Linked DNA regions of Homo sapiens: region 2 is linked to region 1. A link means that fine-mapping ties the variant in region 1 to the expression of a gene that starts in the linked region. Tissue or cell type: whole blood. Region 1 holds a variant in brackets; the other region holds the start of a gene. All regions are shown on one strand. Distances are between the middles of the regions.

The links. PIP is the estimated chance that this variant, and not a neighbour inherited with it, causes the effect. A credible set is the group of variants that fine-mapping cannot tell apart.
Region 2: DCLRE1B starts here. The variant in region 1 is the best candidate, but not a certain one, in a credible set for the expression of DCLRE1B in whole blood (TOPMed, PIP 0.75).

The regions. Positions count from the first base shown.
Region 1 is chr1:113,597,969-113,600,782 of GRCh38, forward strand. All of the region lies in intron 6 of MAGI3 (membrane associated guanylate kinase, WW and PDZ domain containing 3), which reads left to right. Among named protein-coding and RNA genes, the nearest start is that of PHTF1, 160 kb to the right of the region's middle. The variant C/A (reference allele first, on the strand shown) is at 1,588.
Region 2 is chr1:113,904,121-113,906,934 of GRCh38, forward strand. It overlaps DCLRE1B (DNA cross-link repair 1B), which reads left to right and starts at 1,206. Exons shown (of 4, transcript NM_022836.4): 1 at 1,206-1,655. The coding sequence starts at 1,467. AP4B1 (adaptor related protein complex 4 subunit beta 1) reads right to left here and starts at 679. Exons shown (of 10, transcript NM_001253852.3): 1 at 485-679. The coding sequence starts at 597. RefSeq lists enhancers at 315-374, 455-1,014, 1,045-1,094.

The DNA of each region.
Region 1 (2,814 bases):
TTTGGGAGGCTGTGGTGGGCGGATAATGAGGTCAGGAGTTCAAGACCAGTCTGACCAACATGGTGAAACCCCATCTCTACTAAAAATACAAAAATTAGCCAGACATGGTGGTGGGCACCTGTAATCCCAGCTACTCAGGAGGCTGAGGCAGGAGAATTGCTTAAACCCAGGAGGTGGAGGTTGCAGTTAGCCAAGATTGCACCACTGTACTCCAGCCTGGGCAACAGAGCGAGACTCTGCCTGCCATCCCCCCACCCCCCCTCCAAAAAAAAACTCACAGGACCTATAAAGCAATAGCACAGTAAAGAAAACAAAGTACTAGGTAACAATCAACATGATGACTGGAATAGTACCTTATATCTCAATATTAATGTTGAATGTAAATGGTCTAAGTGCTCACTTGAAAGAAGAAGATTGGCAGAATGGATAAAAATTCACAAACCAAATATCTGCTGTCTTCAAGAGATTCATCTAACACATAAGGATTCCTATAGACTCAACGTAAAAGAGTGGAAAAAGATATTTCACACAAATGGAAACTCAAAGTGAGCAGGAGTAGCTATTGTTATGTCAGAGAAAACAGATTTTAAAGCAACAACAGTTAAAAAAAAAGACAAAGAAGGTCATTATACAATGATAAAATGATCAACAAGAAGATATTGCAATACTAAATATATATACCCCTAACTCTAGAGCCCCCAGATTCATGAAACAATTACTATTAGACCTAAGAAAGGAGATATCAACACAATAATAGTAGGGGACTTCAACACTCCACTGACAGCACTAGATAGATCATTGGAGCAGAAAATCAGCAAACACTGGACTTAAACTACACTCTAGAACAAATAAACCTGACAGATATTTACAGAACAATTCTAACCAAGAACTGCAGAATATACATTCTTCTCATCAGCACATGGAACCTTCTGCAAAGTAGACCATATGATAGGCCACAAAACAAGTCTCAATAAATTTTTAAAACTCAAAATCTTTTGTGGGCATTTAGTGCTATAAATTTCCCTCTGCACACTGCTTTGAATGTGTCCCAGAGATTCTGGTATGTTGTCTTTGTTCTCGTTGGTTTCAAAGAACATCTTTATTTCTGCCTTCATTTCGTTATGTACCCATGCCCACAAGAGAAAGCAGGAAAGAGCCAAAATTGACATCCTAACATCACAATTGAAAGAACTAGAAAAGCAAGAGCAAACACATTCAAAAGCTAGCAGAAGGCAAGAAATAACTAAATTCAGAGCAGAACTGAAGGAAATAGAGACACAAAAAACCCTTCAAAAAATTAATGAATCCAGGAGCTGGTTTTTTGAAAGGATCAACAAAATTGATCGACCACTAGCAAGACTAATAAAGAAGAAAAGAGAGAAGAATCAAATAGATGCAATAAAAAATGATAAAAGGGGATATCACCACCGATCCCACAGAAATAAAAACTACTATCAGAGAATACTACGAACACCTCTACGCAAATAAACTAGAAAATCTAGAAGAAATGGATAAATTCCTCGACACATACACCCTCCCAAGACTAAACCAGGAAGAAGTTGAATCTCTGAGTAGACCAATAACAGG[C/A]TCTGAAATTGTGGCAATAATCAATAGCTTACCAACCAAAAAGAGTCCAGGACCAGATGGATTCACAGCCGAATTCTACCAGAGGTACAAGGAGGAACTGGTACCATTCCTTCTGAAACTATTCCAATCAATAGAAAAAGAGGGAATCCTCCCTAACTCATTTTATGAGGCCAGCATCATCCTGATACCAAAGCTGGGCAGAGACACAACCAAAAAAGAGAATTTTAGACCAATATCCTTGATGAACATTGATGCAAAAATCCTCAATAAAATACTGGCAAACTGAATCCAGCAGCACATCAAAAAGCTTATCCACCGTGATCAAGTGGGCTTCATCCCTGGGATGCAAGGCTGGTTCAATATACGCAAATCAATGAATGTAATCCAGCATATAAACAGAACCAAAGACAAAAACCACATGGTTATCTCAATAGATGCAGAAAAGGCCTTTGAAAAAATTCAACAGCCCTTCATGCTAAAAACTCTCAATAAATTAGGTATTGATGGGACATATCTCAAAATAATAAGAGCTATCTATGACAAACCCACAACCAATATCATACTGAATGGGCAAAAACTGGAAGCATTCCCTTTGAAAACTGGCACAAGACAGGGGTGCCCTCTCTCACCACTCCTATTCAACATAGTGTTGGAAGTTCTGGCCAGGGCAATTAGGCAGGAGAAGGAAATAAACGGTATTCAATTAGGAAAAGAGGAAGTCAAATTGTCCCTGTTTGCAGATGACATGATAGTATATCTAGAAAACCCCATTGTCTCAGCCCAAAATCTCCTTAAGCTGATAAGCAACTTCAGCAAAGTCTCAGGATACAAAATCAATGTACAAAAATCACAAGCATTCTTATACACCAATAACAGACAAACAGAGAGCCAAATCATGAGTGAACTCCCATTCACAATTGCTTCAAAGAGAATAAAATACCTAGGAATCCAACTTACAAGGGACATGAAGGACCTCTTCAAGGAGAACTACAAACCACTGCTCAATGAAATAAAAGAGGATACAAGAAATGGAAGAACATTCCATGCTCATGGGTAGGAAGAATCAATATCGTGAAAATGGCCGTATTGCCCAAGGTAATTTATAGATTCAATGCCATCCCCATCAAGCTACCAATGACTTTCTTCACAGAATTGGAAAAAACTACTTTAAAGTTCATATGGAACCAAAAAAGAGTCCGCATTGCCAAGTCAATCCTAAGCCAAAAG
Region 2 (2,814 bases), 310 kb after region 1:
TATGAATTCAAACCATCTGACATAAGAAGTGAGAGATCAGGTGTCCTCAAGGTTGGCTCCCACGCATAGTCGGCTGCTGGTGGCATTCATCAACACAAATGTAAGCTGAACAGGTTTGAGGAAGACGGAAGAATGTCCGGGCTATTTCGGACATACTTTTGATAAACCACGCACGTGGAAATGCCAAGCAGGCAGTGGGATACGTGGGTCTGAAGCTAAAAAAGGAAGTCTGTACTAGCTATATTATAGATCCAAGAGTCACCAGTAATTGCTCAAGCCCGTGATATGGAGGAAACTACCCAGCTGAGTAAAAGATGCTGCAGAGGGGAGACTGACATGGTACTCCAAAGCAGCAGGACGAAGACCGAACCATATAACTGCCACGTGTGAAAGCTAATTCACCCTTTCAGAGAGACTGGGGCTAGTGAGCCCTGATGGGGATTGCAAAGGGAGCAGTTAGCACGCGAAGGGAGGTAGGTGATACCTAATCACTCGCTGGATGACATTCCGGTAGCGCAGCCTATCAGCTTGAATGTGAGGATTGCACAGAGCCTTCTTCAGCTCCTTCACCACGTCCTCGGAGCCAAGGTACGGCATCTTCCTAAGAGTCACAGGGCAGCTCCCACAGCTCCCACGGTAACTCGAGGGCTCCTTCTCGTCCTGATGTGGGAGCCTGAGTAAAGGAAATATGAGTCAGTGAAAATACAAAAGGCGAGATCTCGCCTCAGGCTCGGCTTCCGTAGGGCCGGCACGCTGGCCCTGACACACTTCCACGCCCTCCGCGACACCGCGAGCCCCACCCTAGGCTCTTCAGGCCCTACCGTCGGCCGGCAGGCCGTTCGCCCCGCCCACAGATCGCTCCCGCTACTTCTAGGTCCTCCGCCGGATTTCCAGCGCCGCGTCCGACTGACCGCAGACCCCTCCCTCTCCAGTTCCAGCCTTAATTCCCCCTCCACGCCGTTCTCATCGCGGATAGGCCCAATCTTGCTTTCTGCGGAAGTCCCGCCCCCTTGTCAAGAGACCAAACAGAAGACCGCTGCCGGTCTCCCCGCGAGCGAGCGCTAAGCGTAGTCCCGACTCCGACCTTAGGATGCCCTTCCCCCAACCTCTCACTCTCCAGGCGCAGCTGCGCGGCTCCCTCTGGTGGAGCTGCGGCGGGCAATCGGAAATCGGCTACTTTGGCCTGTCTCCTCCCTGCAGCGCGCGCTTTGAGTGCCCGGCTCGGCCTCCGCTCCCGCGCGGTTGGGAGTGTCCAGCGCCCTCCGCGATTTGGGCTCCAGCGGGCAGGGTGACTTCCTTTTTCTGCCCACTCTGGTAACTTATTGCTCTGCTGGGCTCTTTCCCTTAGGGTCTCTGGCCCTGTTCTTGCCCCAGCATGACTTTTATCGGGACGCCGTTGTGGAAGCCTCACGCAGGAGCCCTGCCCCCGTGGAGAAGATCCCACTGGTGACTCCAACCCTACCACCATGAATGGGGTCCTGATCCCCCATACGCCCATCGCAGTGGACTTCTGGAGCCTGCGCCGGGCTGGCACCGCACGTCTCTTCTTCTTGTCTCACATGCACTCGGACCACACCGTGGGCCTGTCTAGCACCTGGGCCCGGCCCCTCTACTGCTCCCCAATTACAGCCCACCTCTTGCATCGTCACCTACAGGTATGGGGCTGGAGTCGGTCTCCGAGAGCTGGTCCAGGCATCTGGGTTGGGACTTCAACCTGTCATTCTTGGAGTCATAGAATGGGGGCCACGAAAACTGATTTGGAAGTTGTTTGAACCCAAAAATGCATCTTTAACCCAGAATAGGAACGTGTTTTCGAAGTGACCAACTTGAGATAGTTAGCCATAAGTTGAGGAGATATTTTAATCCAGCCAAGGAAACTATTCCTACCTTTATAAGTAAGCTAGGCCGATGTTTCCCAAACTTGCCTTTTTTTTTTTTTTTTTTTTTTTTTTTTGAGACGGAGTCTCGCTCTGTTGCCCAGGCTGGAGTGCAGTGGCGCAATCTCGGCTCACTGCAGCCTCCGCCTCCCGGGTTCAAGCGATTCTCCTGTCTCGGCCTCCTGAGTAGCTGAGATTACAGGCGCACGCCACCACGCCCAGCTAATTTTTTGTATTTTTTGTGGAGACGGGGTTTCACCATGTTGGCCAGGCTGTTCTCTAACTCCTGACCTTAAGTGATCCGCCCGCCTCAGCCTCCCCAAGTGCTGGGATTACAAGCGTGAGCCACCACGCCCCGCCTAAACTTGCCTCATCTTAAGAATCCACCTAATGTGCTGGGTGGTTCTCCAGCTCTCTCCCCACCCCACCCTTAAGTCTCCAAGAGATTAAGATCAGGAGTAAGTTTGGGAATTGCTGACTAGACTGTTTGCTGAACTCTTTTTTTTTTTTTGAGATGGAGTCTCGCTCTGTCGCCCAGGCTGGAGTGCAGTGGCGCAAACTCGGCTCACTGCAAGCTCCGCCTCCCGGGTTCACGCCATTCTCCTGCCTCAGCCTCCCGAGTAGCTGGGACTACAGGCGCCCGCCACCACGCCTGGCTAATTTTTTTTGTATTTTTTAGTAGAGACGGGGTTTCACCGTGTTAGCCAGGATGGTCTCGATCTCCTGACCTCGTGATCCACCCGCCTCAGCCTCCCAAAGTGCTGGGATTACAGGCGTGAGCCACCACGCCCGGCCAGCTGAACTCTTAAATTGTACAAAGGGTGGGATGGGAAGTGGAAGGAGGAAGGGCAGATTGCTTGGGAATCCCCATTACAGCTTCTGCTCCCGGTGGCTCAGGATTTGGTCAGCTTTCCTGATTCATGTAAGGGATAGTCCC